7 linked regions of the Homo sapiens genome follow. The protein of the gene in region 7 purifies or fractionates together with the protein of the main gene of each other region. This does not show direct contact. Each region holds a gene or a part of one and is shown on either strand. Other genes may lie near its edges. The genes, in order: CYSTM1, CCNYL1, CCNY, GNG4, C12orf75, CLPX and DHRS3.

Region 1 (4,767 bases), on a different chromosome or scaffold from region 7:
GGGCGACAGTGTGAGACTCCATCTCAAAAAACACAAAACAAAAACAATAAAAAGTCAGGAAACAATAGATGCTGGAGAGGATGTGGAGAAATAGGAACACTTTTACACTGCTGGTGGGAGCGTAAATTAGTTTAACCATTGTGGAAGACAGTGTGGTAATTCCTCAAGGATCTAGAACCAGAAATACCATTTGACCCAGCAATCCCATTACTGGGTATATACCCAAAGGATTATAAGTCATTCTACTATAAAGACACATGCACAGGTATGTTTATTGCAGCATTATTCACAATAGCAAAAACTTGGAACCAACCCAAATGCCCATCAATGATAGACTGGATAAAGAAAATGTGGCACATATACACCATGGAATACTATGCAGCCATAAAAAAGGATGAGTTCATGTCCTTTGCAGGGACATGGATGAAGCTGGAAACCATCATTCTCAACAAACCAACACAGGAACAGAAAACCAAACACCACATGTTCTTACTCATAAGTGGGAGCTGAACAAAGAGAACACATGGACACAGGGAGGGGAACACCACACACTGGGGCCTGTCGGGGAGTTGGGGGGCTAGGGGAGGGATAGCATTAGGAGAAATACCCAATGTAGATGACGGGTGCAGCAAACCACCATGGCACATGCATACCTATGTAACAAACCTGCACATTCTGCACATGTATCCTAGAACTTAAAGTATAATAATAAAAGAAAATGTTCTGGAATTATGATAGTGGTGATGGTTGAAAAACTCTGTTGATATACTGAAAACCATTGGATTGTACAACTTTAAATGGGTAAATTGTATGGTACATGAATTGTATGTCGAATATACCAAAAAAAGAGGGGGAGGAGGAAGGTGATATCTGTTCCCCCTCCTGTTGAAAGTGACTGGCCTTGAGACTTGTTTTGAATACTGGAATAAGGGGTAAGTGATGCTGTGCCAGTTCTGGGCCTAGCCCAAAATCCTGGCAGCTTCCACTTTCACTCTATTGGAAGCTAGTTGTCATGTAAAGCAGCTTAAGCTAGACCACCTAATGATGACAGACTATGTGCTGAGAGAGGCCTCGTGGAGGCAAACCAAGACCCTACTCATGTCAGTGAGGTCATCTTGGATAGCCTACACCCAGACAGGCTGACAGCTGAATTAAGTAACAAGAGTGACCCCACGAAAGATCACACGAAGCAAGAAGAGCCTCCCAGCCAACTCAGAGAATCATGAGAAATAATAAATCATTGTTGTTTTAAGCCAGTGAGTTGGGGGTGATATGTTATACAACAGATAACTGAAACAACCTTTCTGAGTCTCAGATTCCACTCCTATAACATGGGACTGATACTATGGGGTTGTTGTGAAGATTACATAAAGCTAACACCAAGCATGGTGCTCAACAAATACTAGTTGTTATTCTTAAAAACCACCCAGGAGATCCTTGACATAATCTGCAGGTATGCTCTTCTGGGAGACCTTATTCCTACAAGCACTTGCTGCTTCCAATCACATGGCTTCCAAAAGGTTGGCTTCTTAAAAAAACAAAAGGTGGGTTTTTTTGCTACAATCTCTGACACATGAATTCTAAAACATAAACAGATGACCAAGGAAGGTTCTGCTTAGGTTAGCCATCTACCCGACCCTGCTCATCCATTCATCACACCTTTATTAAGCCCTAACTAATTACCAGACGCCAATTAAGGATAAAGGAGATCCTCCCTCCTTTGAAAAAGAAACCATTTCTACCTATGTATCCATTAACATAATATGCCACACACTTGAACTTGAGTGGAGAGAGTATCTACAGTAGTAGATAAATCTAAAATCATTCAGCTGGAAAGAAAAAGCTTAAATTTCCATATAGAGCTCAGATACACAGCATGAGAACACATAATTCTGACTGAGAATCCCACAAGCAATACCAAAGCAAGGAATAAAATGGGTCCCTAAAGGGTTCATCACTCAGTGAGGCTACATTCTTCCAAGAGTCCCATTCACAGAACATGGACCCCAGGTGACAAAATTTGACCATTTGGCACTACCTGCTATGTTTGGGTGCAGAAAGGATCTGGGCAGTTAATAATTCACAAGCTAATGACAGAGAAATAAATTCCTGGGTATATCCATAGGAAAGGATATTAAACAGCTTTCAACTGCATTTGTGAAATCAATCGTGATTGGTAACACTGAACTAAGGAGCCTTTTAACCCTAAAAAGAATTAAGAAATTATTTTTCATCAAAAAGGCTGACATCAATACTTAAATTACATGAAAGGTAAGAAAGATGACCAAATCTGTATTTTCTGCATGAACAGTGGACAAAGTCCACTGAACCTAGGAAGCACTTATTCTAAACAAACTCAATAAAGTTCTAAACTCATCAAATGCTAGTTAGAGAGTCAGTATAAACAATATTGGCCTAGAAATGGACAGGAAGACCATGAGGGCTATAGGTGAAAGACCTAACACCAGGCAGGCATTGGGTTGAGTCTACCGGATAACTCAAATGCTGGGCTATCTTTCTCTGCTGACATAAAACGTACAGCAAAGTACACAAGTCATAACTATCTATCTTGAAGAATGTTTATATCAAGATTAAGATACAGAATATTCCTAACACCCCAGAAAGTTCCTTTGTTCCTAACCCAATGAATAACCAGTCCCACCCTAGTTTCCCAACTCCACAGCCAGGAGTAACCATTATTTTGATCTCTGGCATCATACATAGTTTTTGTCTGTTTTTGAATTTCACATAAATGGAATCATACCATATGTAGTCTTTTCTGCTTTCTTTTATTCATCACAGGGTTACCTTATTTTGAAGCAGAAAACCCAGAAGCTGAGGTTTATTTTCAGAAAATGTTTCTCTGATGTCACAGGCCTGAATACCAACTACTCCGATTATACTGGTTATACTTCCTGCCCTCTTCCGAGCATGCATGATAAAAACTGTTACAACAGAACACAATCTTGGATTGCAAAAGCTTCCTTCCAGATAAATTAAATTCTTTAAAGGTATTCAAATATTCTATTCAATCTTAACAGAGTATAAGCTTTGCCACTATAAAAGTATAATCTTTTCCATGAATGCAAAATTCTTATTCTAGAGAATCATCAAGTCCTAGAATAAAATTAGCCATCAATTCTGTTATTACTTTTGATTAGTAAAGAACTAAATGACAGGAAAATCTCTAAGAGGAAGCATAAGTCACTAAATTCAGATGAATGTGAGTCAGCTCAGAAAAGGCAGGAGAGGAACAACAGTACAGCAATAAATTATAGGTACAGATTTTGAGGCCAAGCTATCAGGATTCTAATCTAGAAAGTGCCCCTTCTAGCTAGGTGACCTTGGGCAAGTCATTACTCTAACTTTGTACCTCTATTACATCACTATAAAATGGGAATAACTTCATAGGATTGTTGCAAGGATTAAATGTTAATGTATATAAAGCACTTAGGAGACCATGTGACACACAATAAGCACTTTTTTTTTTTTTGAGATGGAGTCTCACTGTCGCCAGGCTAGAGTGCATGGTGTGACCTTGGCTCACAGCAACCTCTGCCTCCCAGGTTCAAGCCATTCTCCTGCCTCAGCCTCCTGAGTAGCTGGGACTATAGACGCGTACCACCACGCCTGGCTAGTTTTTGTATTTTTAGTAGAGACGGGGTTTCACCATGTTGGCCAGGCTGGTCTTGAACTCCTGACCTCAGGTGATCTGCCCGCCTTGGCCTCCCAAAGTGCTGGGATTACAGGCATGAGCCACTGTGCCTGGCCATAATAAGCACTTTTTAAGAATTAGCTATCTTGGCCAGGCACAGTGGCTCACGCCTGTAATCCCAGCACTTTGGAAGGCCAAGGGGGGCGGATCACGAGGTCAGGAGATTGAGACCATCCTGGCTAACACAGTCTCTGCTAAAAATACAAAAAATTAGCCGGGCGTGGTGGCAGGCGCCTGTAGTCCTAGTTACTCAGGAGGCTGAGGCAGGAGAACGGCGTGAACCCAGGAGGCGGAGCTTGCAGTGAGCCGAGATCGCGCCACTGCACTTCAGCCTGGGCAACAGAGTGAGACTCCGTCTCAAAAAAAAAAAAAAAAAAAAGCTGAAAGGGCTAATTAAGAGAGCAGCTATTCTGCCAACCAAAGGGCTACAAAATAGTGACCAAGACATCTAGCACAGTGCTCCTCAAGATGTTTTACTTTTAATCTTTCAGACTGATACTTTCTGTAAAATGCAAGATTACATACTTGGATGTCACAGCAAAACCAAATTGCTCTAAAAGTTTCTAAATGTTTACTCTCACTTTCTGTACATATAATATAGTCCATAACTGTTCACTGTTCATTGACTGGCATTTGTCTACAGACTGAACTTTGAGTAACACTGTTCTATAGCACACAAGAAGGACTCAAGAGCCTCCTGAAAACTCAACTGGCAGGTTAAATAGAATTATGAAAACATTTAGTAAGAAAAAAAAGAAAAACCCCAGTAGCAGGGGCAAGAGGATGACTTGAGGGTCAACAAGCTGACAGATAAAATAAACTCAAGAGGCTAATTACTAAACCTAAAATACAAAGCTGGCTACAGAGCAAAGACTCAACTGCTAATTCCTTCCCCACCCCCAAGTGCTCTAGAGGGTAGCCCTCAGAAAACACGTTGGCCAGGAAGTCATCAGCCCCAGAGGGGACAAGAGGTGTGAATGTAGCAGGCAGAGCTGACTTGGGCCTCTTCTCAGGAGTGAGAATCCACCCTAAGCCATCATCAAGCTTTGGGG
Region 2 (4,767 bases), on a different chromosome or scaffold from region 7:
TCTCCCAACTTTTAAACCTTTGGCCAAATGTGTCAGCATTTCTGCTTATAACTGGCATATCACAGGGTGCAAACCATCTTATAAAGTGACGTATGATAGATTTTTTTCCTAAGTTAGATCTTTTATCCTAGTCGGCAACTTATCAAGACACAGTGATCAGTTAGTTTTTGTTTTTTTGAGACACAGTCTCATGCTGTCGCTCAGGCTGGAGTACAGTGGTGCGCAATCGCGGCTCACTGCACTCTGCCTCCTGGGTTCAAGCGATTCTTGTGCCTCAGCCTCCTGAGTAGCTAGGATTACAGGCGTGTGCCACCACGTCCCACTAACGTTTTTCTAATTTTATTTCTTTTGAGCCGGAGTTGCAGTGTCGCCCAGGCTGGAGTGCAGTGACGTCATCTTGGCTCACTGCAACTTCCGCCTCCAGAGTTAAGGGATTCGCCTGCCTCAGCCTCCCGAGTAGCTGGGATTACAGGCGTGCATCATCACACCTGGCTTTTTTTTTTTTTTTTTTTTTAAATAGAGACGAGGTTTACCATGTTGGCCAGACTCCCGACCTCATGTGTTGTGATTACAGGCGTGAGCCACTGCACCGTCTTTTTTTGTAATTTCAATAAAGACGAGGTTTCACCATGTTGGCCAGGATGGTCTCAAACTCTTGGCCTCAAGTGATCGACCCACCTTGGGCTCCCAAAGTGCTGGGATTACGGGCGTGAGCCACCGTGCCTGACTGTGATCATTTACTTAAATATTTGACTTTAGGTAATGAAGAATTAAAGTGGATGAAAATATTGCAATGCTATCAGGATTTATTGAGAATTGCTAAAGCTGAGTGGCTAGACTCTTAGTTCTAAAGAAACCTAATAGTGACTTGGTATATTTTTAACTGAAATGTAAGCTTGAAAATAGCACATTAAAGTCAAATTATGTGGCTTAAGACATCCTCTCAACAGCAACACAAATTCTAGTTCCTGTCTTTCCATTCTCTTTCCTGTTTGTCTGAAAACCTCAAATACCTCTTGTTCTAATTCTACGCTATTCCTTTAATTCCTTTCTCTTTGATACATTTTGCTTAATTTTATATTCTAATGTGCTTTTCCCTCTCAGACACGATAACCAACTATTCAAGATGCCATCTAATGCACTATGCCATTAAGTATTGTGGTCAGTGATTTTAAGTGTAATAAATTATCTTCAGGTTGAAAAGAGCATATGCAAAAGAAATGGATCACTACATCTTAACTAGAGGCATGGATCAAATCAACTTATGGTTGGTTTGAAAATGCTTTAAGACATATCAGGATTGACTTAAAACTAGGCTGGGCAGAGATGTAACACTATGTGGATAGAAGTGTTACAAACACACTAGCCATATTTTAATTAAAATAGAGTTTATTAGCTTTTAATATAAACATGAGAAATAAAAACCACATAAATTGTAGCATTCTTTTCAAAATAAAACTGCAATCAATACTTGAATCTCCAAACTCTGAATTCCATAAACAATATTTGTTTTTTTGAGGTGGTAGATTGTAATATTTGTATACCATTATTTATCATTTATGTCTCTGTCCTTTAAAAATGATGGAAACTGCAGCACAATATGATGTGAAGCATTGCTATAATAGAGGAAGTACTCCTGTCCCAGAAATGCTTTGTTTATAAGCAAGATTCCTAGGATTAGATTTGAGAAAGTAGGAGAAACAGATTTCACATAGTTGAGAACACTAACCTCTTCTTAGTATTTCAAATTTAGGTGACATTATCGGTCTCCTAAAATTATTTGCTCCTTGCCTTTTAAAGCCTGAAGAGTTCCTAAGGGTTATGTAAGTATTTCTTAAATAGCAGGACTTAATGGGACACCTACAGCTTGGTAGCATGTAGGATGATAAAACAGCTGTTCATATCACCTTCTATAATTAGGGTCCAATTCCTTTTATTACATGTTAATTAACACTGCTCTTCAAAATCTTCCTTTAAAGAAACTGCGGTAATCAAAGCATATAGAGCACAGCTCTGCGGGTAACTACTTTTAAAAAGAGGGCATTTTATGGAGATACAAGGTATTCCAAAAGTTCAGTGTAATTTTAAGCTTTGATACTTGTAGAAATATAAATGCTACAAACCTTTACAAAACCTTGTCTGAACATTTTTCTTCTGCTTTTTTCTTTGAGACAGGGTCTGGATGTCGCCCAGGTTGGAGAGCAGTGACATGATCATGGCCCACTGCAGCCTTGACCTCCTGGGCTCTACTGATCCTCCCACCTTAGCCTCCAGAGTGGCTGGGACTACAGACACATGCCACCATATCCAACTATTTTTATTATTTTTTTTTACAGGCAGGGTCTCACTATGTTGCCTAGACTGGTCTTGAACTCCTGCACTCAAGCAATCCTTCCACCTCAGCCTCCCAGGGTACTGAGATTACAGGCATGAATCACTATGCCCAGCCCATTTCTTTTGCATTTAATTTTGCATTTTTCTAAGAGATGGGGTCTTGATAACGTTGTCCAGGTTGGAGTGTAGTAGCTATTCCTATAGGCACCATCATGGTACACTGCAGCCTCCAATACTTGACCTCAAGCAATCCTCCAGCCTCAGCCTCCCAAGTAGCTGGGACTATAGGCGTGCACCACCACACCCAGCTTCATTTTGCAAATTTTGAATATAAAGCTTTTAATTTTTTGTTTCAGTCAATGTCTGCTATCAAGAGTGACCGAAACAAAAAATTAAAAGCTTAATATTCAGGAGACAGGTGCCAGTTGCACTTGTAGTCCCAGCTACTTGTGTGGCTGAGGCTAGAGGATGGCTTGAGACCAGGAAGTTCTAGGCTGCAGTGAGTGCACAATGATTGCACCTGTGAAAAGCCACTGCACTCCAGCCTGGACAACGCAGTAAGACCCCCATCTCTTTAAAAACAAACAAAACAAAACAAAAAACTTTCAAATCATGTTTTTTAAAGGTTTATAGCATTTATACTCATGCTGCAGTGCCTTGGAGGGCCCAAACTATATTCAAGCTTAAAACTGCTTCACTTTTTCTCATCGTCACTGAACCACCATGTTGGTTGGCATTATGAAAATATCTTTTAATACATTTATTTAGCAAGAGAAAAATTATCAGAAAATGAGAAGCACCATTTATAGTTCACAAGAAATGCAACATGGACTCCAATAGAAGTAGATATCAATAACTGATACTTCCTCTGTTTATGACCCCAAACATGCTAAAATGCTAAAGTAATGCTTGCAAAGAATATGAATGACAAATGTTATCCAGCAGCTTTTTGGTTTAAAATGATTGCCAATGACTAGCAGCTTCAATGGTAACAGTAGGGAGGAAGAACCCTTCAGTACCTAACAACGCTGCTGTCTGCTCCTAAGTGGCTTTAGTTAGAGTCCCATGTTTTAATGGTAATACTGCATTGATTTTAAAGGCATATGCAGCAAAATGCGGGGGGAGGGAGAGAAACTGGAAGAAACATAAAAGTTATATGGTTAGTGTCTTTAAAGTCTAAAAATTTAAACTATTGTTTAAAAAACCTTACATAGTTCACAGCTATCGGCCCACACAGTAAGCAAATATCTGTGTGTAGGATGGGAGCCTTCACTTTGGAGTGGTTTTTGTAACTCTGTTTACATTAAAAAGGACAGAAGAGTGTTTTGTTGCATTGACAAGGTCCCATTCTTTCCTGTGGAGTATAATCCTTGTTGTCCATGAGTCTCTTGAATTTGAGATCTTTCCTTTTGATGAAAACACTAATTTTGCTGGTTTTTGAGCAGGAAAGGTGGTATTTCTCCAGTCTTTGTAGATGAAGGTCCCATGACGTTATAACCCCTCATTTCTCCTTTTAAGAGAGGATGGCTTTAGAGCGCTGAATACCAATGAAGTTATCAGCACTGAAAGACCTTCTCATAGCGGCTCTACACAAGTCTTTGTCTTCACACAATCTAGAAATAGCCTAGGAAAGTCAATCAAATAGAAAACAGGTACAATTTTAAAAAGGGTTCCCGCCTTTGAAAGAGCACCATTGTGAAAGCCACACATGTGGACTCCTTTAGATAGTTCACAGTTACAGCTACTTTGGCTGAGTTTTACACTGCCAGGTTGTGGGGACACTACTTCCTGACAGTTCACCAAGGTAATATCCTTTAAGGGCTATGGTTAGATTCCCAGAGAACAAAGGGGAATTTATTATATTATTAAAAAACTGGATTCCCAAAGATATCAAAGGTATTGTGATAGGGCTCCTAACAGCAATAGCATCTGTTATCTGTTAACTTATTCCTTAAATATAACAAACGTACACTTGTGCAAAAAAATGTTTATTCAGCTATTCAAATTCTACCCAATCCTTATTAGCTATTATATACTCAAAGCACATTTTAATGAGGCAGGTGTGTGCTGGACTATACTGGAACATATGAGCGGTCTGATGACTGACGCGCCAAAAGGTATTACTTCACATGCACGTTAATTATGGTAGAAATACATATTATTATTTTTTTCTTTTTTTTTTTTGAGGCAGAGTTTCGCTCGTTGCCCAGGCTGGAGTGATCTCAGCTCATTGCAACCTCTATCTCCCAGGTTCAAGCGATTCTCCTGCCTCAGCCTCCCAAGTAGCTAGGATTACAGGCATGTGCCACCATACCCAGCTAATTTTTTGTATTTTTAGTAGAGACAGGGTTTCACCATGTTGGCCAGGCTGGTCTCAAACTCCTGACCTCAGGTGATCCCGCCTGCCTCGGCCTCCCAAAGTGCTGGGAGGAA
Region 3 (3,926 bases), on a different chromosome or scaffold from region 7:
GCTGCATTCAATAACAGCAAGTCAGCACCTTAACCAAGCTGTTTGCAGGCCTTGGCTTGAAATCCATGCAGCTAAAGACATAACACCCTGGGAGGGTGAGGCAGGAGGAGCACTTGAAGCTGGGAGTTGAAGACCGGCATGGGCAACACAGCAAGACCCCATTTCTATAGAAAATTTAAAAATTAGCCTGGCCAGGAGCAGTGGCTCACGCCTGTAATCCCAGCACTTTGGGAGGCTGAGGCCGGCGGATCACTTGAGGTCAGGAGTTTGAGGCCAGCCCGGCAAACATGGTGAAACCCCATCTCTATGAAAAATACAAAAATTAGTCAGGTGTGGTGGTGTGTGCCTGCAGTTCCAGATACTTGGGAGGCTGAGACAGGAGAATCAGTTGAACCTGTGAGGCAGAGGTTGCAGTGAGCTGAGATTGCACCACCGCACTTCCAGCCTGGGCGACAGAGTGAGACTCCATCTCAAAAAAAAAAAAACAAGTAAATTAGGTGGGCATGGTGGCACAGGCCCATCGTCCCAGGGAGGCTGAGGCGGGAGGATCACTTGAGCCCAGGAGTTGGAGGCTACAGTGAGCTATGATTGTGCCACTGCACACCAGGCAGAGTGACAAAGTGAGACTCTGTTTAAAAATATATATATATTTAAAAATAAATATATATATAAAACCCAAGTTAAGTATCCTGTTCCTGTCTCAGTGCAAGAGCATGTTTCTTGTTTCCTTCTCTTTTTCAACAAGGGTAGGACCTCATCATGGCTGACTTTTCAGAAGATAATGTCTTTAAGACCCACCCAAGATGCTGACTCCAATGACATCAAGGGAGATAAAGTGGTTTCAGACAAAATGGGGTATCAATATGAAAGTGACATGTTCTATTAGGTCTCTATTGTGCAACTTCTCAATTGCTGGAGTAGCTCTCATACTTTTGTGAGTCGCTCAAGAACACAGGGCCAATACCACTTTCTACCACTGCTCTTGCAAAGAACTGGTTCACTCAGCATCCATAAAACCTGTTGAATTTTATCTCAATATACTAACTCAAAAAACACAGCAGGAAGGCAGGCACTACTTTGTTCTATGTATATATTTATTTAACATTTATTAAATACCTACAATAACCAAGAATCATGTTTTATTTTTAAAAAATTTCAAATCTGGGCCAGGGGCAGTGGCTCACGCCTGTAATCTCAGCACTTTGGGAGGCTGAGGGGGGTGGATCACTTGAGGTCAGGAGTTTGAGACCAGCCTGGCCAACGTGGTGAAACTCTGTCTCTACTAAAACTACAAAAATCAGCTGGGCATGGTGGTGGGTGCCTGTGATCCTAGCTACTCGGGAGGCTGAGGCAGAATTGCTTGAATCCGGGAAGTGGGGGTTGCAGTGAGCCCAGATCGCACCATTGCACACCAGCCTGGGTGACAAGAGCGAGACTCCATCTCAAAAAAAGAAAAAAAAAAATTCAAATCTGTAAAATATGGCCCCAGGTGAGAAGTTACCAAAAGCAGCAGGAAAAGTTTAAATCATTCACTCCCCAAATTTTGCTTTCAGCTTAGCTTAAAGGAAACCCCAGGATGGAGATGGCTCTGCCCAAGCCCGAGAGCAGGCAGACAGGAAAGCCAGCCCAGAAGAGGAGGCAGGTACAGGTGCCCACACCTCTGGCCTCACCTCATGCATGAAGGCACATCCCGATCTTGGCAGGATTTCTCATCTGCCCTCCAATTTGGTTTTAAACTCCTGACTTCTTCTTTCCCTTTTTCTAGTTAAAAAAAAAAAAATAAGAAAAGTAAAACAAATCAAAAAGATTCATCGGGATATATATTTATTGTCCCAATGACTTTATTTGTTGTTTAAATCAAATATAAAATTAAAGTAACAAATTGTGTCGTTTCCTTCATCCTTAATGACAAAAACTTTCCATTCAAAAACTACACTAAGACAATGTGTTCCTCAATAGTAATCCAGCTTTAATTGTAGAGCATTAATTCGCCTTACAAACAAATTACAGTCACTACGATTTATCAGTAAGTACTGTACTGGTTTTGTGTTTTCTTTTGGCAAACTTTGAACAAATCAGAGAAGAAAACATAACTATTCATCATCATGTAGAAAAAGAAAAGAAAATGAACCTCAAGTATCTACCTATGTGTCAAGTGATTCATCCTGCCAGTAAAACTAAAATCTACACTTACAGCGGAGTTTTAAACATCCTTAGTGCAAGAAACATAACCAATTAATACAGATCAACACTAATTAATGAATATGGAAAATTTTCCTATACAGAGGTAGAATCCAGGGCACAGGCTAAAACAGTATTCAGTAGTCTAAACAAGACTTGAGTCTGGTTTTATGGAATCCACTTTAAATTTTAGGTATCAGACTGTATGTACATACATACAATAAATAGACTATACAATTTTTTTAAAGTAGTTTAATAAACTCCACAAAATAATAGCAGATGCATTGAAATATTTACATAATTCGATTTTCAAATCTCTCATTCAAATAAAAGGGATAAAAATAAAATTTCTGCCTTTACGGCAGCAGAACCTCTTTCCTGAAATGGATTGGTAAAATAAGATACTTCACTGGAGAGGAACTAATTTATGTTTAAGAGGTATTCATATTCAGCTAAGAAAATACAACCCTTTTTCAGCTATATAGATTAGGGAATATAAAATGATATTTTCTACATTTTTTGACCTGTATTCAAAGTTCTAAATTCAACTTTGACTTGAAGAGAGAAGGTGATTTTGGTACCCATACAGAGTAGATCATCACAATTACAATGGAAAGATAATTAACGTTTTATATGCTGTTTATTTGCTTTTGAAAGTTTGGGTCAGAAAGGCTGTGATAATAATTCTGGCCCAAACAGGTATGCTTATACCTGACACAAATTTCACTAAAACCTAACACTTTTGGCTTGGAGTTCTTGGGATTTCGACTTTCTGAGTCCCTTCCATTTCCAAAGCATGTTTCATTGAGAGCAGGCAATGTTTGGGGATCAGGTGTATGATTCAAGACTAATTAAGATGCCAAAGTTTTCCAAGCTCACATGGGAAGAAGGTGAAACACAGACCTGCTGCTGCCACTGGCCTCCCAGAGACTTGAAAAGGGAAACAACTCAGAAACCTGTCACTGTGACCTAAGAAAATATGCAAAAACCCAAAGCATTACATATGCAAGTGACTCACACTCTTAGATTTCATATCAAATTCACTATTTGATATTCTATCATCAACTTTCATTTTACTTGATATAAAAGATTCTTATTGAGTCCATAAGGAAATCAGGGATCGTCAGAAAATGAAAAAGTATGGTCATAATTAATGAAGCATAAACCTTCACAGTTTGAATTTTGTAGAACTTCTCTAAGCACCCACAATGAAAATGCAAGTTGAGTTTTTTTTAATTCAATCATTCTGTGAAAAATACCTCAGTAAATAGTAACATTTTTCCCTTCAATGATCTTCCCACTGGAATACCCAACCCACCCTTGTTTTTTTTCTTTTTCTTTTAGATTTTTTAAAAATTTTATACAAATAGACTAACTTTGATTTAAAGTAAACATATAAAAATTGAGAAGAATATTGCTTGCAACAATGGACTTGGAAGGAGAGGAATGGATTAGGCAGGGGTACAAAGAAATGGCTCCTACTCGGTAGTTCCAGGCACATGCCCAGCACTCTGCAGAACTCTCACAGGGACACCCTCTGCTGCACCGTGTCCTTCAGCCCACAAAGTCTGACTGATTTTGTAACAACAACTTCAGGTCAGGAAAAAAACAAATGCAAGAAAATCGGAAGGCACAAGCACCCATGTGATCTAGAATGTTCTTGGGGTGAGGAATAAGGAGGGAAAGGGATACTTTTGGTTCAGCACTACAGTCAATTTCGCCATTGTTGAAGAAAAACGGTATAA
Region 4 (4,767 bases), about 220 Mb from region 7:
GGGGCCTGACGGGACTGAGAGTCGGCTCTGCTGCTTTCCCCGGTAACGTTAGCTGTTCCCTCCCCGCCACATGACCCACCTGTGCACATGTGCACACATCCTCAAGGACTCACACTTATACCCACACACTCACACTCCAGACACAAACACACCCCCCACACCCTCTCACACACTCCATACACTTACACACACGTTCACCCCGCATGCTCTGAGACGTGCCTGTATTCACACTCTCACCTTCACACACACACACACCCCCACCCCACACTCTCCCACACTCACCCTCACCCCCACCCTGAACCCTGACCCACACCCACACACACCCTCACACACAGACACCCAACACTCGCACACATACCCCACAGTCACACACACACCCAACACCCTCCCACACTCACACTCCACCCCACATTCACACACCCCACCCCATGCCCTCCCACACTCACACTCACCGCCACCCCACACCCTCCCACATTCACAACCCCAACCCACACCCTGACACACACCCACAACACACCCACCTCACATTCACACACCCCCACCCCCCATCCACACTCTCACACTCACCCCCCACCCTGTACCCTCACACACGCTCACCCACCCTCACACACACACCCCCACCCCTCACCCTCATACATGCTCACACACGTGCTCACACACACACTCACACACACCCCACCCCTGACCCTCATACATGCTCTCACACTCTCACACACACACACCCCTCACCCTCACACACACCCCAACCCACACCTTCACACACACTCACATACACTGTCATCACACACACCCCACCTCACACACTCACACTCACCCACACCCTCACACATACTTTCTGTCACACACACTCACCCCCACACACTCTCACACGCTCACCCCCACCCCACACTTTCACACACTCCTACTCACCACAGACTCCCTCACACACAGTGCAGAGCCCTCCCCTCCTCCCTTTGCCCTGCTCCATGTCCTCTTGGCTTCACCCCTGCTGATCCCAAACTCTACCTCCTCCTCCCCTGAACCTCCCCCAACTCCTAAATGCCCAAGTCAAAGACAAGGGGCGAGAGGGATGGAGTCTAGAATGGGGAGAGCAGGATCAAGATTTGAAGGCAGTCACTGTAGGGTCTGTAGTAGGCTGTTTTGTGTTGCTGTAAAGGAATACTTGATACTGGGTAATTTCTAAAGGAAAGAGGTTTAATTGGCTTATGGTCCTGCAGGTGGTACAGGAAGCATGGCAGCCAGCATCTGTTCCTGGTGAGGCCTCAGGAAGCTTCCACTCATGCAGAAGGTGAAGGGGGAGCCATACTATCACACAGCAAGAGTGGGAGCAAGAGAGACAGCAGGAAGGCGACACACACTTTTAAACAACCAGGTCTTGGATGAACTCAGAGTGACTTTCACTTATCACCAAAGGGTGGCGCTGAGCCCTTCCTGACTGATCTGGCCCCGTGATCCAGTACCTCCCACCAGGACCCACCTCCCACATTGGGAATCGCATTTCGTCATGAGATTTGGAGGGAACAAACATCCAAATCACATCAGAGTCCTTTTTTCATTGCATCAGCTGGGAAGGGTTGGGAACTAGACTGTGTCTCCTCCCTCATTTTGTGTAGACACACAGCAACGCAGACACACATCAGCACACACACACACACGGAGAGATGGCCACACACAGACTGGCACAAGGCCTGCACGAGCAGGCACGTGGGCACATACAGACACACCCAAGGACACACCAACACATGTGCAGGAACGCGTGCACAGTTCTGCTGAGTGGGGGATGAAGGGGATGTTCCTTGGATTTCAAAGCTCCCAACTTGTCGTGATTCTCCTTCCCTTGTTGTTGAGTTAAAGTTCCAAACTAAGATAAGGACACACATCTATTAAACTCTGATTTGGGTGGCTGATCTGTCTTCTAACGAGAATATTTTACTTTTCAAAAACTGCCTTTGGACAAATGTAGTTGCCATTATGCCTTTCTGGGCCAGAGAATTAGTTCATATGTGATTAAAACCCACAGAGAGAGTGGGTCCCATACACTAACCTACTGGCCAAATAGAAAATTTCTTAAAAATTCTAAATGTTTTGTATGAAGCAAGTATAACATTGATATTTAAACCAGATGAAGGTAGCATTAAATGACTTAATTTATTACTTAAGAATAGTACTGAATTCCAAAATTACTTAAGAATCTTGATGCAAAAATTATCAGAATGTTACCTTATAGAATTTGGTAATATATCACAAAAGTAAATATGCATTTACCTTTGACCCAGTAATTCCAGAAATGTACCTTGAAGACACACCCCCACAATAATATGAGAATATAGATGTAAATGCCCGTAAATATATGGATTGAAAAATATACAGTATATCCACACAGTGGAGTACTGTAGTATGTAGTTCTAAGAAAGAATGAGTATGATCTTTTTTGCATATCAGTGAACTAATATGTGGTGCTTTCTAAAATGTATTGCTAAATATAAAAACAAAGTTCAAAAGCACACACACGTTATCTTTTTGTGTAAGAAAGAAGGAGAAATGAGAAAACATATATGTAACTGCTTACTTTCTAAGAAAATAAACACAGGACCAGCCTGGGAAACATAGCAAAAAAAAATTTTTTAATTAGCCAGGCATGGCGGCACACACCTGTAGTCTCAGCTACTCAGGAGGCTGAGGCAGGAGGATCGCTTGAGCCCAGGAGTTTGAGGCTGCAGTGAGCTGTGATTGCACCACTGCATTACAGCTTGGATGACAGAGACCCTATCTCAAAAAGAAGGAAGGAAGGAAGAAGGGAAGGGGAAGGAAAGGAAAGGAAAGGAAAAGGAAAAAGAAGCATAGGAAAGAATAGTCTGGAGTCCAACGTGATGGGAAGGAAGGAAGACCAGAGGGAGGGAGGAAGGGAAGGAGGGAGGGAAGGAAGGAAGGAGAAAAAAGAAGCATAGGAAAGAATAGACTGGAGTCCAGTGTGATTGGTTGCCCATAGGAGGTAGGTGGGAGGGGAGAAAAGGATTGGAATGGGCAGTGAAAGTGACACCTGTGTGAATATCAATTTGCATCATTTTAACTTTGAAAGTATGGTTGCTGCTTTACATACTCAATTAAATTAATACAATAAAGTCCAACAGTTGTGAGGTGGGAAAAAAACCTAAAACTGAAATAAAATATAAACAGAAGCAGACGAATAATAGATGGTGGCCAGGGCCTCTTCCCACCTCATCTGTACCTTTGGGAGCCAGTGTCACTTGTGTTTCTGCTCTCAGTGACCTGTCCCCAGCTCTCAGGCTTTAGTTTTAGGCTTCCTTTGAAGCAGATTCTCATTAGACGGGGCAATTGCAATTGTGATGTGTGTAGCACATGCTTTCTGTGAAACAGGTAGCACTACACTGGTCTTAGTCACGGGGCATCAATGTGTGTAGGGTTAGGGAGAATTTCTTCTGCCTCCCTCTAGAAAATAAATCTATGCTTGGGATAGGGAAGAAAGAGAGAGAGAGTGTGTGTTTGTGCGTGTGTTTATTGTTGAAAACAAACTCTCAACACAAAGTCTGTAAACTTTTTGGAAGGACAACAAATTAAAATTAATAAAGCAATTTTATTCATTAGAAATGTGTGTTATGAGCCATAGATTGTTAGGAGAGGCCATTTGAGACACTCGGCTAGGCTTCAAAGCTTTGAGTTTGAGTTCTGGATCCACAAATGTTGGCTGTAGGATCTTTGGCTATTGGTTTAATTTCTCTGATTTTTGCACTTTCTTCCTTTGCAAAATAGAAATTAATATTGTCCCACCAACTGTATGGGCTGCTAGAGCAATGAATGAGCAAACGTGTGTGAAAGTGAATGATGACTCAAAGCACTATACGAATGTCCAAGCATTACTTATGGTCGTGGTGGTGATGGTGGTGGCAGTGGTGGGGGTGATGGAAAAGTCATTCTGGAACCTTCTGTTCTCTTCTCACTGTCCCCGGGACTGAGAAAGTTTTTCCAAACAAAAGCATCATGTCTTGCTCCTCTTACTCGAATGAGGCATTCCTTTCTCTTATCCCAGGAGGGTTTTCTACCAAATGCTGTCCATGCTCCCAGATGCTCCCTGGCTTGGACAGAGAAGCTGTAGGTGGTGGGAGGTGGGGTTCCCCTACCCTTGGAAGAGCAGCTCTTCTAACCCTTTTACTTTGGTTACTTCTAGGGGCAGTAGAATGAAAGAGGGCATGTCTAATAACAGCACCACTAGCATCTCCCAAGCCAGGAAAGCTGTGGAGCAGCTAAAGATGGAAGCCTGTATGGACAGGGTCAAGGTAAGCATGCATGCGTCAGCCCCACCCTCCGCCCGAAGCTCAGCTCAAAACATTCCTCCTGCTTCCAAAGCAGACTTGTGAGAGTTAACACGTCACCCAGCAGAGCATGCAGCCAACCTTGGCAGCTGTAACATTTACAAATGAGTGTTTGCTTCACAGTTCTAAGTGTGCCCAAGGATTCAAAGGATGCAAAATACACAGTGTGCATGAATTCCATAAGGAGTCTCCAAAAATAGACTCATAATTCATCTCGGCTCTATTTAGCTCCGTTGTCATGCCAATAAGCAAGAAAGAGAGTTTAGCAATGAGATCAATCACTTTTCTGCTGTGATACAGTGCCTTTGAGGTTCAACAACATCGGATATTTTGACAGGATTATTGTTGAGGGTGGAGCTCTGAACCATGCCTGGGTGTGTCAAATATTCCTTTGGTGAAAATGAAGAAAGGTTCCAGACACCTCCCGTTGTATTCA
Region 5 (4,767 bases), on a different chromosome or scaffold from region 7:
GACCCTTTATGATCAAACAGTAAACATGAGGAAAGTGTCCTCCTGAGTCCTGTGAGCTATTCTAGCAAATCATTGAGCCTGAAGAGATTTGTGAAGACCCCCAAATCTATAGCTGACAGAAGTGTGGCAACCTGGAAGCGCAATATTTGCAACTAGAGTCTGAAGGGAGGGCAGTCTTGTGGGACCGACCCACTAAACCTGTGGAGGCTGACACTAACTCCAGGTAGTGTTAGAATTGAATTGAATTGCAGGACACTTGGTGTCAAAGAATTAGGTGTCAGGAAACGGGGGAAAAAAAAAACCTCTCAGACATTCTTTATGTTTCATACAAAAATTGTATGTGTCCTAGTAGTGGTTAAGGTTCTGAACAGTCTTGAAGGGCTTTATGAATCACACCAAGATTGCATCATGCTGTGTTTATTTAAGCAAAGAATTATTTATACTCCAGGTATACAGTTTAATACATTTTCTTATATTCTGATTTTGTCTCATTTCTGAACTACTGCAGAAAAATATTGTCTTCGTTTCACATGGCTGCTGTAACAAATTACCACAAACTGGGTGGTTTAAACAACAGAAATCTATGCACTCATAGATCTGGAGGCCAGAAGTACAAAATCAAGGTCTCAGCAGATCCAAACTCCTTCCAGAGGCCTTAGGGAAGCACCCATTCCATGCCTCTCCTGGCTTCTGGTGCAGCAAGCATTCCTTGGCTTGTGGCCCCATCATCTCTGCTCCACCTCCATTTTCACATCACCTTCCCTTCTATGTCCGTCTTCTCATCTTGTGTCTCTCATAAACACCCTTCTCATTGGATTTAGAGCCTACTCAGATAATCTAGTATAATCTCCGCATCTCAAAACCCTTAACTTTATTACATTTGCAAAGATCCTTTATCCAAATAAGGTTGCATTCACTCACTGCAGAAAAGAGAACATGGACATATCTTTTTGGGGGCTACCATTCAACCCACTAGACCTTCTTATCTTTGTCCTTCCCTGTCTCCAAAAAATACTCTCTTTTAAAATACAGAGCAAAATGAGTATCTGGAGGGAAACTAAATGTAATATATGTATCATGCACGACACAAACGGAACTTTATTCCTCGTGAATGATAACACAAGCCAGCTACAAGATACTGCACTGAGTAAATTTTTTTTTTTTTTTTTTTTGGCGGGGGCACGGAGTCTCACTCTGTTGCTCAGGCTGGATTGCAGTGGCACGATCTCGGCTCACTGCAACCTCCGCCTCCCAGGTCGAAGCGATTCTCCTGCCTCAGCGTCCCAAGTAGCTAGGACCACAGGCGCATGCCACCACGCCCGGCTAATTTTTTGTATTTTTAGTAGAGATGGGGTTTCACTGTGTTAGCAAGGATGGTCTTGATCTCCTGACCTTGTGATCCACCCGCCTCTGCCTCCCAAAGTGCTGGGATTACAGGCGTGAGCCACCACGCCCCACCTGCATTGAGTAATTTTAAGTAGATGGACACAATATCTTGGTTCCTACAGACAGATGGTCCTTTGAGAGCTAATCAGCCTGTCGTATACATTAAAAACCATGAATCATACTGTCCAGCATGTCTTCAGTATTATACAGATTCAAACATTTATTGATGTGAGTATTTCCTCCCAAATGCCAAAGTCTATTATGAAGAACATACTTTTATCTTTTAAAAGAAACAAGGGCCAGGCATGGTGGCTCACGCCTGTAATCCCAGCATTTTGGGAGGCTGAGGTGGGTGGATCACGAGGTCAGGAGATCGAGACCATCCTAGCTAGCTAACACAGTGAAACCCCGTCTCTACTAAAAATACAAAAAATTAGCTGAGCGTGGTGGCGGGCGCCTATAGTCCCAGCTACTCGGGAGGCTGAGGCGGGAAAAAGGCATGAACCCGGCAGGCGGAGCTTGCAGTGAGCGGAGATCACGCCACTGCACCTAGCCTGAGTGACAGAGCAAGACTCCGTCTCAAAAAAAAAGAAAGAAAGAAAGAAAGAAAAGGTCATATACATTTTAGTCCATTAATACCTTTTATGACCACCATACTATATAGACTCTAGACTTTATAAAATATACTAGAAATATTCACAGGTAAATGAATTGCTAAGTTACATATTAAGTTACATTCTTCAAACCAAGTGGTGATAATTCACACACACACACACCCGAAATAAAATTATGTATGTGAAGAATTTGTAAAAAAAAAAAAAAAATACTGAAGATTTAAAAAGCACTCTTCTTTCAGCATAAATTATCAGAAACATAAATGCCTATGGTTCTTATGGGAAATAATAAAAACATGCAAGAATGTCTTACTCCTTATTTGTTTTAGAAAAGAAACAGTCCCTCCGAGAACTATATAAATATAACTGCAGAAAAATAAATAAAATTCTCTTTAATTTTGACAGCTTGCTATGCTCTTCTGACCCACAATAGTTATAAAACTATGTCATAGTCTTGGTTTGGCCAAAAGAAATGGAACAACAGCTCATTACTTCATCCAAAGCAATGCTTATTTTTCAGAGTGCAATAAAAAAATACAGATTCATAAGTGATTTCTTCAAATAATGGAGGAAAAAAATTCAGGTCAATGTGTCCTAGAAATATAAAATTATATATTGACATAAAATTATGTCAATGAAAATGGAAGCTCTTATAGAAAATCTCATTTTTATAGGTCGTCCTTGTTGAGTAGTGCTAGAGTTTGGTTTGTTTGTCCCCTCCAAATCTCATGGGGGTGGGGTCTAATGGGAGGTGTTTGGGCCATAGGGGCAGATCCTTCATGAATGGCTGGTGGTAACAAGTGGGCTCTAACTGTATTAGTTTCCATGAGAGCTGGCTGGTCATTAGCAAGAGCCTGGCACCTCCCTCCCTTCTCTCTACTGCTTCCACTCTTGCCATGTGATCTCTGCACACTATGGCTCCCTTTTACCTTCTACCATGAATGATAGCAGCCTGAAGCCCTCAGCAGAAGCAGATGCTGGTGCCATGCTTCTTGTACAGGCTGCAGAACCACGAGCCAAATACACCTCTATTCTTTATCAATTACCCCGTCTCAGGTATTCCTTTATAGCAACACAAAAATGAACTAAGACAAGCAGCTATACTTTAGGCAAGTAAAAACCAAAAAATGGCCAGGCGCAGTGGCTCACACCTGTAATCCCAGCACTCTGGGAGGCCAAGACGGGTGGATCACCTGAGGTCTGGAATTTGTGACCAGCTTGGCCAACACAGTGAAACCCCATCTCCACTAAAAATACAAAATTAGCTGGGTGCGGTGGTGCATGCCTGTAATCCCAGCTACTCGGGAGGCCGAGGAAGGAAAATCTCTTGAACCTGGGAGGTGGAGGTTGCACTGAGCCGAGATCATGCCACTGCATTCCATCCTGGGTGACAGAGCAAGACTCCATCTCAAAATAAATAAATAAATAAATGAAAGATAAATGCAGCCATATAAGAAGTACAGGCATAAGTTAGTGCACTGACATTTAGCTGATATAATAAAATTTAAGCCATGTCTATATGGAGCTATAAGTGGCTCATGGTAAAACTGCCTTTGCTGAATTATAAATAATGAGAGAAATTTAATATAACTGACTCTATTTTGCTTTGCTTTTAATTTCATAGGTTTTTTTTCTCTTACTCTAACATGGAAGCCAAGATAACTATGAGAGGAATTTAGTTTATAGTTACACTTTGAAGCAAGGAAAACTGACCCCACCCCCCACCATACCCCATCCTTGTTCAAAGATCAAAGCTGCATTCATATGGCAAGGTTAAAATTCTGGTAGGGGCTTAAACTTTACTAAAAAATAGGCATAAACAATGACCCGCTATTGTTTAGCATGCTTTCCTATAAGTTGCTTACTGCACTAGAGTCACGTAACCAGGGGTTACAAGATTTCCAACTTCCCCAAATACTCCTATAGATAACATCAGTATTGTGAAACCTAAAGACCTGGCCTTTGACATAGTTTTCAGATTTCACATTTTGGTAGATCAAGAGATGCCACCTGGTTCTGAGAACCAACCCTTTCCTGGGAACTGACTTTACTGCCCAAAGATGTTTTAGATGCCCCTATGACCTCATCCCCAGCCAATCAATTGTTCCAATTCCCCAGTAACCCCCTGCCTACCAGAGTCCCCTTAAGAAACCCTAGCCTCCGAATTCTCAGAGAGACAGGTTTGAGAAATTTCTCTCTGCTCTCCTCACTTGGCCAGCCCTGAAATGATTAAACTCTTTATTTGCCACAAAAACTGCTGTTCTCATTGGTTTTTGTTTGTTTGTTTGTTTTTTAAGACAGGATCTTGCTCTGTCACCCAGGCTGCTCACTGCAGCCTCACTTGCAACCCTCCTGGGTTCAAGCAATTCTCCCACTTCAGCCTCCCAAGCAGCTGGGATTACAGGTGTGCGCCACCACGCCTGGTTAATTTTTGTATTTTTAGTAGAGATGGGGTTTCGCCATGTCAGCCAGGCTGGTCTCAAACTCCTGACGTCAGGTGATCCACCTGCCTCAGCCTCCCAAAGTGCTGGGATTACAGGTGTGAGCCACCGTGCCCGGCCCGTGCTGGTTTTGTTTGGGGCAGTGGGCAAAAAGAACCTACCAGGCTGTGACAATGGCAGAAATCAATCACTCGCTTTGGATGCCATCAATTCTGGGGAGACACAGCAAGCGAATGATGCACAGAGCTTCTTGGTTCTGTCTCACCAATGATTACTACCTGAGCAGAGGGGTCTCCACACCTCTCTTTATTCATCATCACTTCAAA
Region 6 (4,767 bases), on a different chromosome or scaffold from region 7:
TCTAAAATGGAGATAAAAATAATAGTTTCTGTCTCATGGGTTTAGGGGAGATTAAATGAATATATGCAAAACACTTAGAACAATACCTGGCAGATAGTTTTATAAGTGTTACAGAAGAATCTGGTATTATTATTACCATTTCCCTAGTGTTTAATTATTCACACAACACAGCCCTTAAACGCAAACAAAGTATTTCATCTGGTGCTCAACTTAAAAAACAACATTATATTCCAAAGATGGAGAAAAAAAGCCAATTGTGTCAGTCCTCCTAAAAGCTGTATGTTGGTCTCTAAAATTTGACTTCCAAAGGGACTTATAAGAATTAATCTTATTGTACATGATTTTGGTCTAAAACCCTAGACCAGTGTTAGGGTCTAACACCCCCAGCCAGTGTTAGTTAACAACCTAACTTTAGAACTTAAAATCCCATGTAAAACACAACAAAACTGCACATGACAATAAATTTAAGCTTTTGAAATATTTGTTTCTAAGTCAATCTTTTACATAAGTTCTTAAATACTGTTACTTGTTAACATTTAAATAACATTAAATCACTACATATATTACATGACATGTCTTTCAAAATATGCACTACAGACTTTCTTTACTAATTTAGTATAGGTTAACTAGCTGTCAACACAATTTATGAGTATGGTATTGACTGCATATCTGAATATATTTTTTTATTATGAAATAAATTACATATATACCTAAAGGTTATTATTTAGATTTTACATTCTTATATACAATCTAATTCTATTGCACTTACTGTATTTCTTAATTTTACCACGCATGGTATAATCAGTATTTCTATAAATTTAAAAATAACTGGGGATAATGTAATTTTATTACATGTGATAAATGTCATGCCCAAGTTGGTACACAAGTTATATTCTCATGGCTCATCCTATATATAGTACACTTCAAATAGTGGATATATAATACTACTTGGTTCAAAGGCAAATGTAAAAACATCAAACTTAGCTAATTTTCTTTATTTCAATTACTAAAACAAAAGGCCATGTGAATCTTTCTATGACACCCCTGGAACCTCCACCCTCAATGCAGCAACTAACTATATCCACCTCCAAAGGAATAGGTGGAACACAACAGAAAGGCCACTCTCCTTGGTCTATCAAGTCCTTCCACACCCTCCATCGGACCATCTGATGCTTGTAGGGGCAATCTGGGGCTGGAAACAGTGAATTAAGACTTACTCATAATTTGTAAGACTGTAAGTTTCATAAATACAAAAAAAACCAAAAAACAGTGTGCTTTCTGGCAAAGAGTAGCTAGAAAATAATCTGCCTCCCCCAAATTCCTGTGACCCACAAGAAGCAGGCCAACTCTAATTGTAGTTTGATAGAAAAAATAAAAAATAACCCAACATATGGAAACGACACAAATTAGCTATGAAAAACTATTCCAAAGTTATATATACCATGTAGGATAAACACATTTAGATAATACGTATCTTTCTTGGTAATACACAAGCAAATACATACATGTCTATCACTGTTACTGCTGAAACACTTCACTGAAATAAATGTCAAAAGGAAGAATGATTACAGAGGAGGACCTGAAGTCACTTACTTGTAAATCTGTACTCATCCTCCCGTCTTCTTATTTCTAACTCTAAGAAAGAGGATGAAAATATTACATATTTGTTTACCTTGGGGGAACAAACAATGAGTATCCCACCTCCTGTCCTCTTTCAAATATATTTAAAGGATTTGTTCATTAACATTTTTCAGCTTTTCATATATGCTATATCTTTTCTATATTAAAACAAAACCATGCATAAAGACCGCTGTCCAGTTGCTAATATTCACATTTGTCAAATATATAATTGATATCTATTGTAAGGGTATAATAACATAAGTCTTTAATAAGAGTTTAAGCCCCTCATGCTATAAATATTATAACCATTTGCTCCTCCAGCACTTAGAATAGCTTAAATATCTATTTATTACCGAGGAAAACAAAAAAGTTTTGCTCCATAACTATCAGTGCTATTTGGACCTTATAAAAATGAAGATTTCAGGCCAGGCGCAAGAGTTCACGCCTATTAATCCCAGCACTTTGGGAGGCTGAGGCAGATGGATTGCTTGGGAGACTGAGGTGGGAGGATCACTGGAGCCTGGGAAGTTGAGGCTGCAGTGAGTCGCAATCCAGCCTGGGTGACAGAGAGAGACCTTGTCTTGAAAAAAAGAAAAAGGTTCCAAGTCATCCGTTAGTTATGACTTATACTTTCTAAAAATAACTGATACCATCACATACCTATTTTGCAGTTATGTGATGTAAGTTCAGCAAGTGAACAAGTGTCTTCATTGAAATAAATTATACATTTAGTTGCTACTAAAGGCAATCAAAGATAATGTAGACTTATAAATTTAAGTACTTAGCAGAACTCCTTCACACTGTACAGTGATAACTAAAAGAATCTAAAATGATGGAATATAGGCCTAAATCAGAAATTGGGGCTGTCTGGCCAACAAAACAAAAAATTAAATATTCATATTTACTCTATGCATAATTGTTTTTAATAAATCATTCTATTAATATACATTATTGTCCATAGTAAATTGAGATTATACAGTATACTGTATAATGACTACAGCCATGTGCCACCCCACCTGGCTAATTTTTGTATTTTTAGTAGAGACGGAGTTTCCCATGCTGGCCAGGCAGGTCTCGAACTCCTGACCTCAAGTGATCCCCCCGCCTCGGCCTCCAAACGTGCTGGGATTACCGGCATAAGCCACCATGCCAGGCCTAAGAAATAATATTTACCTTAACTGTAAGTTAATGTATTCTGTTATTTTCTATTCATATCTATCAAATTTTTAAAAAATGCTGTTGGCAAATGATTTCATAACACACTAATGGGGAATAACCTGCACTTTGAAAAATGCCACACTATATAAAAAACATTTTAAGAAGAAAGTGAGGAGTTACAAATAAAGATTACTTTTAAGCATAGCAATCTCTATTTAGGTCAATTATCAAAAACGCTACCTCTTGGTGTTAATGATGTCTGCTTCTCAACCTCTGCTTGCTGTCTCAGATTAGCTGGGATATTATTATATATTCTCTTATAATGATTGTACACAGCAACTGAAAGCACCTTCTTAGCAAATGACTGGCCAACAACATACTTGTCGAGGTAGTTATAAATCTGAAAAATGATTAGGTATGAATAATTTAATATGAGCTATTATAAGAGCACACACATTAAAAAGTTATTTACTAAGCATATTTGCTTACAGTTTTAAATCTGAACAAAGACTCTCATTAAAAACAAAATGACAATACATTATATAGCAATGATTCAGAGGCCCTGAACACTAAATGAACAAAAACACAATTCATTTGTTCTCTAGCTTAACAAAGTATCACTGTACTCTACTAGTGTTGTGCTAATTTCTATTCTATAAACAATGCTATCAATCTTTATTTTTTGATAACAAATTAAATTTAAAGTAACTTAGAATACATACACATGCCACCATGGTCTAAAAGTATCAACATTAATGTAAATCATTAAAATAAATCCATACCTGTCAATCAAATGAATAACATTCTTCACAAAGATAACATTATAAAACTACTCTTTTCAGAAACAGGCATTACATAATCAAAAGCCATTATACTATCAGTATCTATGTGTTTTAGTAAATTTAATTTTTTCTCAGACATTAACTTTAAAGCTACTCATTTATCTGAGACTCTAAAAACTGTATTCTTATTTTTTTTTATTTTCTAAAAATATATTTTTTTCTTTTTTTGATACAGGGTCTCACTGTGTCGCCAAGGCTGGTCTTGAACTCCTGGGGCTCAAGCAATCTTCCTGCCTTGGCTTCCCAAAGTGCTGGGATTACAGGCATGAGCCACCAAGCTCAGCCCTAAAAACTTTATTCTTAATAGTAGCTAAAGCTCTATTCTACAGTTGGTTATTGCCAACAGCTTGGAACCTGGGGTAAATTTTTTAAGTTTTTAGTGAATAGAAATGAAATGGTTGGTGAATTAATATTAACCAACTCCTGCCGGGCTTGGTGGCTCACGGCTGTAATCCCTGCACTTTGGGAGGCTGAGGCGGATGGATCACTTGAGCCCAGGAGGTGCAGACCAGCCTGGACAACATGGCAAAACCCTGTCTCTACAGAAATTAGCTGGGCATAGTGGTAGACACCTGCAGTCCCAGCTACTGTGGAGGCTGAAGTGGGAGGATCACTTGAGCCCAGGGAGGTTAAGGCTGCAGTGAACCATGAGTGTGCCACTGCACTCCAGCCTGGGCAACAGAGTGAAACCCTGATTAAAAAATAAATAATTCAAAAACTCCTGAAATTAGTTAAACTGCCTGGATTTTTTTTTTTTTTTTTTTTTTTTTTGAGACGGAGTCTCGCTCTTTCACCCAGGCTGGAGTGCAGTGGCGTGATCTTGGCTCACTGCAAGCTCCGCCTCCCGGGTTCACGCCATTCTCCTGCCTCAGCCTCCCGAGTAGCCAGGACTAAAGGCACCCGCCACCACGCCGGGCTAATTTTTTGTATTTTTTTAGTAGAGACGGGGTTTCACCATGTTAGCCAGGATGGTCTCGATCTCCTGACCTCATGATCCGCCCGCCTCGGCCTCCCAAAGTGCTGGGATTACAGGAGTGAACCAAACCACCGCACCCGGCCAAACTGCCTGGAATTTTAACTCACATGTCTAAAGTCTACACAAATTCGTATAGAATATAAAGCCCAATATATTTTCCATTTTTAATGA
Region 7 (4,167 bases):
GTGCCACTAAGTAGGTGACAATGGCTTAATCTGTCTGTGCTCCTTGTCGAGGGGAGTGCTGACCTTCTCTCCCTTCATACAACACACTTTCAAAACCAGGCTCTTAGCATCTTGGTGCCCACAGGCAGCTCAGAGATCCATCGATCCCAACTGCCCCTGATTCCACAAAGATGACGGTGTGGATCTGAGGAATCAGGTTCGATTTGGGTGTCACATCCTCTGGGGAAGCGTCCTGGGCTCACCTTCAGGCTTCTCCTCGTACAACCGGAGTTCCGACGCTTCCCCAGCAAGCCCTGGTGTAGTCCCCACCCGTTTACTTGTCAAGCCTGTGGGGGCCTTCATGGCGGGTATTTCATCTCTGATCCCCAGGCCCTCACATGGGCCCGGCACAGAGAGGGCCCTCAGGCTGTTTGGTGACTCAAACTGAAGGGTCCTGGCCCACTCTAAGTACAAGATGAAAAGGGTTCACTTCCAGCTGGAGCAATCTGGAAGGCTTCCTGGGGGTGGTGGTATTAGAGTTGAGCCTTGCTTTCTCCTGGGGAAGGTGAGGAGGGATGCAGTTCAGAGAATGGGGAGCGGGGTGGCTCCTGCTTCCTGTTCAAAAGTAGTTGTGGGGAAGGTTGGAAAATGAAGGCTGAGGGCTTACTGTGGAGAGCGCTGAGGTGTTCTAGACCAACTTTTCTCTAGAAAGCTCTGGAAGTCTTCTAAGAAGCTCCCCTGAGGTGGAGGGTGGCAGCCTGACCTCAGTGAGGACCTGAGCCCCTGATCAACTAGGGGCTCCTAGAGACGGCTGAGGAGCATCTCAGACCCGAGGTCAGGATGGACTGAGGGAGGCCGAGGTGTGGCCTGGATGCCCCTGGGTGCCCCCTTCCCTGTGCCTCTGAAAGGGCTTTGAGTTTGGGGAAGAGAGGGCTGATCGGGCTTGCGCCTCAGTTTCGAGGTTTCTGTGCCCTGCATGTGTTGGGGCAGCCCCTCAGCTGGGGCTCACCATGTCCCAGCAGCCAGGGCAGAAGTTGGCTTTCCTGGGAGTGCATGTTGCATGAGAGCAGGGGCCAGCCTGGCACTTGGGGGCTTACCTTCCTGAAAAGGACTTCCAGGTCAGAGGGGCTCAGTCAGGAGGGGGCCAGAGCCCCAGGGGAGCCAAGAGCCCATGGTCACTTGTGGCACCAGGGACAAGGATCTCCTGCTGTACTAAGAGGCCCAAGAAAACTGAGTGTGGGACTGGGATGGGAAGGATTTGCTGCACAAAGCCTGGAAAGTTCTAGGGGAATAGGATGCCAGGCAAATTCTGGAGGAGGAGTCTCTCATTTATAAAGCCTGCCTCCCCAAAGTGGTCTGCCCTGCTACATCCCACCCGACTGGTACTAAGACGCTTCTGTGAATTCTGAGCCCTTGGCATCAAGATCCCCATGTTCCCTCTAATAGTAAACTTCCTGAGGGCAGGGGCTATGTCCAATAGGCTGTAGAACAGTGGTTCTCAAAGTGAGGTCCAGGAACCTTTGGGGTACCCGGGATCTCTTCAGGGGTCTGTGAGGTCAATTTTTTTTTTTTTTTTTTTTTGAGACGGAGTCTTGTTCTTGTTGCCCAGGCTGGAGTGCGGTGGTGCGATCTCGGCTCACCTCAACCTCTGCCTCCTGGGTTCCGGCAATTTTCCTGCCTCAGCCTCCCAGGTAGCTGGGATTACAGGCACACGCCACCACACCCAGCTAATTTTTTTTGTATTTTTAGTACAGACAGGGTTTCTCCATGTTGGTCAGGCTGGTCTCGAACTCCCAACCTCAGGTGATCCACCCACCTCGGCCTCCCAAAGTGCTGGGATTACAGGCGTGAGCCACCGTGCCCGGCCACATTGTTTCTGTAATAATACTAAGATGTTATTTGTCTTTTCACTTTCATTCTCTCAGTGAATGGTAGAATTTTCCAGAGGCTACGTGACACGAGATATCACAACAAATTGAAATCAGATGCACATATAAGAATCCAATTGTCTTCAATTAAGCCAAACAAAGAGATTTGCAAAAAGGTAGAACAATGCCACTCCTGACTACATTTATTTTGTTTTAGAATACATAACTAGTTGTCATAAAAATATATTTATATTAATGTAATGGGTTTGTTATAGCTATTTATAAATGAATAAATATTATAAACAAATGTATACAACTTACAACATTTTTCTGGCTTTTAATTTCTTTTTTGAGATGGAGTCTTGCTGAGTCACCCAGGCTGGAGTGCAGTGGCACGATCTCGGCTCACTGCAAGCTCCACCTCCTGGGTTCACACCATTCTCCTGCCTCAGCCTCCCGAGTAGCTAAGACTACAGGCGCCCACCACCATGCCCAGCTACTTTCTTTTTGTATTTTTAGTAGAGACAAGGTTTCGCCATTTTAGCCAGGATGGTCTCAATCTCTTGACCTCGTGATCCACCTGCCTCGGCCTCCCAAAGTGCTAGGATTACAGGCGTGAGCCACTGCGCCTGGCCCTGGCTTTTAATTTCTAATATAGTAAATAGCGATAGCTACAACTCACATTAACAAAAGCTCTTTGGGTTCCTCCATACTTTTTAAAACTCTAAGGGGCCCCGTGACTAACAAGTTTGAGAACTGCTGCCCCACAGTAAGTACAGTACATCAGCAGCAAATGTGCCAGCACTCCTCATGCTCATGCCCGCAGCAGACATGACTAATAGATCACATGCGTACTTTCCCCTGACCCAGAGTGTTCTTTCCCAGCCCCATACCTTTTCAAGATAACGAGGGCATGCATTGTCCATGGGAGGAGGAGGAGGGCCTGGTTGAGCTGCACAGCTTCCACTGTCCTCCGGGCCACCGTCTCCGGCTTCAGTGGGGGAAAGAGGTTGGGAAACCTGAACACAGGAAGAGACACAGTGGGTTTCTCCTGGAGAGGCATGTGCTTATCTGGAAGTCTTTATGAGGCTGACATGTCTGGGTCACCCTTTGGCTTTTCCTGTCTGAGAGATTCGAGGCCTGCTTGGAATACTCCCTCTACCCCACACCCATCCAGGTGCCACATTCCCTCACTCCTCCAGGCACACAGGGGTCTCTTCTTGAGTCAAGGACTTCTAGCCCACCCACTGGGGACCCACTCTCCCAAGCCCTCCAAGGGCTCCCAGTGCCCTAGGGCTTGGCCTTTCCATGGCCCTGCGTAATCTGGGCCCTGGTTGTCCTTCTGAGTCCTTTTCCCTACACTCTGCTCCTTCAGGACAGGCCCATTTCTGTTCTTGTCACATCACATGCTCGGGTCAGGGCTTTTTGCCAGCTCTCTCAACAGCCTGGCTCTCTCCTCCCAGCTCCTCCTTTGGGAGACATTTCAGGCCAGTCCATCCAAAGCGACCTCTGATCCTGTCCCCTGCTAATTTCCTTGACCGCGTTCACCCCACCTAGGAAGACCTTGCTTTTTGGGTTGTTTCCTTGTCAGTGGCCTGTCTCCGCCATCAGGCAATGAGTTCCATGAGGGTGGAGGCCTGGTCGGTCCTGCTCCCCTGCATCTAGCACAGCATCTGATACATAGTATGTGCTCAATAAATACTTGAAGGACTGAACACACTGATGACTTGCTGCTTCCCAAATGTGTCCTGCTCATTCTGTCTGGAGGCAGGGGCTTGGCTAGCGATGGCTGGGGCTCAGCTTGCTGGTTCACTAACTCACTCACTGATTCATTGATTCAAAGATTTGCACAGTGCTTTCCATGGGATCTCAAAATGAATGAATGAATGATTGCATAAGCAAACATCAGGGGCTTCTCATGACTATTTAAAAGCATCTGACCCTAGATCCAAACAATGATGATGTTCCCTACGTGCCAGACTCATGTACAAATTATTCTCCTGATTTACAGATAAGGAAACCGAGGCTGTATTGAGTCAGTAGGGCGCTAAGGATTCAAACCTGGCCAATGCTCTATCACCTTTGCTCACTGCTCTTCCTGCCCTTCCTGGATCTATAGGTGCAGGGCTCATGTTGCTGGCTCTGACCCCAATCCCACAAAGAGCTTGTGATCCGCTCTGGCACCAGGAAGATTAAGGGTGATGAATCACCCAGGTTTGATGTCATTCCTCAGCAACAGGCAGCCCTTGGACTCCCAGCAGGGGTTTGGCCTCAGAGGGTACATGAATCTTACCCCCTGCCCTGTAATTCCTTTGTCATC

The links.
Region 1: the proteins of DHRS3 (region 7) and CYSTM1 purify together in Homo sapiens (affinity purification with mass spectrometry; one large-scale study listed by BioGRID and IntAct). This does not show direct contact.
Region 2: the proteins of DHRS3 (region 7) and CCNYL1 purify together in Homo sapiens (affinity purification with mass spectrometry; one large-scale study listed by BioGRID and IntAct). This does not show direct contact.
Region 3: the proteins of DHRS3 (region 7) and CCNY purify together in Homo sapiens (affinity purification with mass spectrometry; one large-scale study listed by BioGRID and IntAct). This does not show direct contact.
Region 4: the proteins of DHRS3 (region 7) and GNG4 purify together in Homo sapiens (affinity purification with mass spectrometry; one large-scale study listed by BioGRID and IntAct). This does not show direct contact.
Region 5: the proteins of DHRS3 (region 7) and C12orf75 purify together in Homo sapiens (affinity purification with mass spectrometry; one large-scale study listed by BioGRID and IntAct). This does not show direct contact.
Region 6: the proteins of DHRS3 (region 7) and CLPX purify together in Homo sapiens (affinity purification with mass spectrometry; one large-scale study listed by BioGRID and IntAct). This does not show direct contact.

Annotation. Positions count from the first base shown.
Region 1 is NC_000005.10:140,194,767-140,199,533, reverse strand, and holds part of CYSTM1 (cysteine-rich and transmembrane domain-containing protein 1), read right to left. Parts: intron 1-4,767.
Region 2 is NC_000002.12:207,752,779-207,757,545, reverse strand, and holds the end of CCNYL1 (cyclin-Y-like protein 1), read right to left. Parts: intron 3,959-4,767; coding exon 3,848-3,958; 3' UTR 1,372-3,847; downstream 1-1,371. UniProt on the Homo sapiens protein: Key regulator of Wnt signaling implicated in various biological processes including male fertility, embryonic neurogenesis and cortex development. Activates the cyclin-dependent kinase CDK16, and promotes sperm maturation.
Region 3 is NC_000010.11:35,569,818-35,573,743, reverse strand, and holds the end of CCNY (cyclin-Y), read right to left. Parts: 3' UTR 1,077-3,926; downstream 1-1,076. UniProt on the Homo sapiens protein: Positive regulatory subunit of the cyclin-dependent kinases CDK14/PFTK1 and CDK16.
Region 4 is NC_000001.11:235,583,268-235,588,034, reverse strand, and holds part of GNG4 (guanine nucleotide-binding protein G(I)/G(S)/G(O) subunit gamma-4), read left to right. Parts: intron 1-4,186; 5' UTR 4,187-4,196; coding exon 4,197-4,295; intron 4,296-4,767. UniProt on the Homo sapiens protein: Guanine nucleotide-binding proteins (G proteins) are involved as a modulator or transducer in various transmembrane signaling systems.
Region 5 is NC_000012.12:105,336,836-105,341,602, reverse strand, and holds part of C12orf75 (overexpressed in colon carcinoma 1 protein), read right to left. Parts: intron 1-4,767.
Region 6 is NC_000015.10:65,161,011-65,165,777, forward strand, and holds part of CLPX (ATP-dependent clpX-like chaperone, mitochondrial precursor), read right to left. Parts: intron 3,179-4,767; coding exon 3,019-3,178; intron 1,636-3,018; coding exon 1,594-1,635; intron 1-1,593. UniProt on the Homo sapiens protein: ATP-dependent chaperone that functions as an unfoldase.
Region 7 is NC_000001.11:12,569,988-12,574,154, forward strand, and holds part of DHRS3 (short-chain dehydrogenase/reductase 3), read right to left. Parts: intron 2,867-4,167; coding exon 2,741-2,866; intron 1-2,740. UniProt on the Homo sapiens protein: Catalyzes the reduction of all-trans-retinal to all-trans-retinol in the presence of NADPH.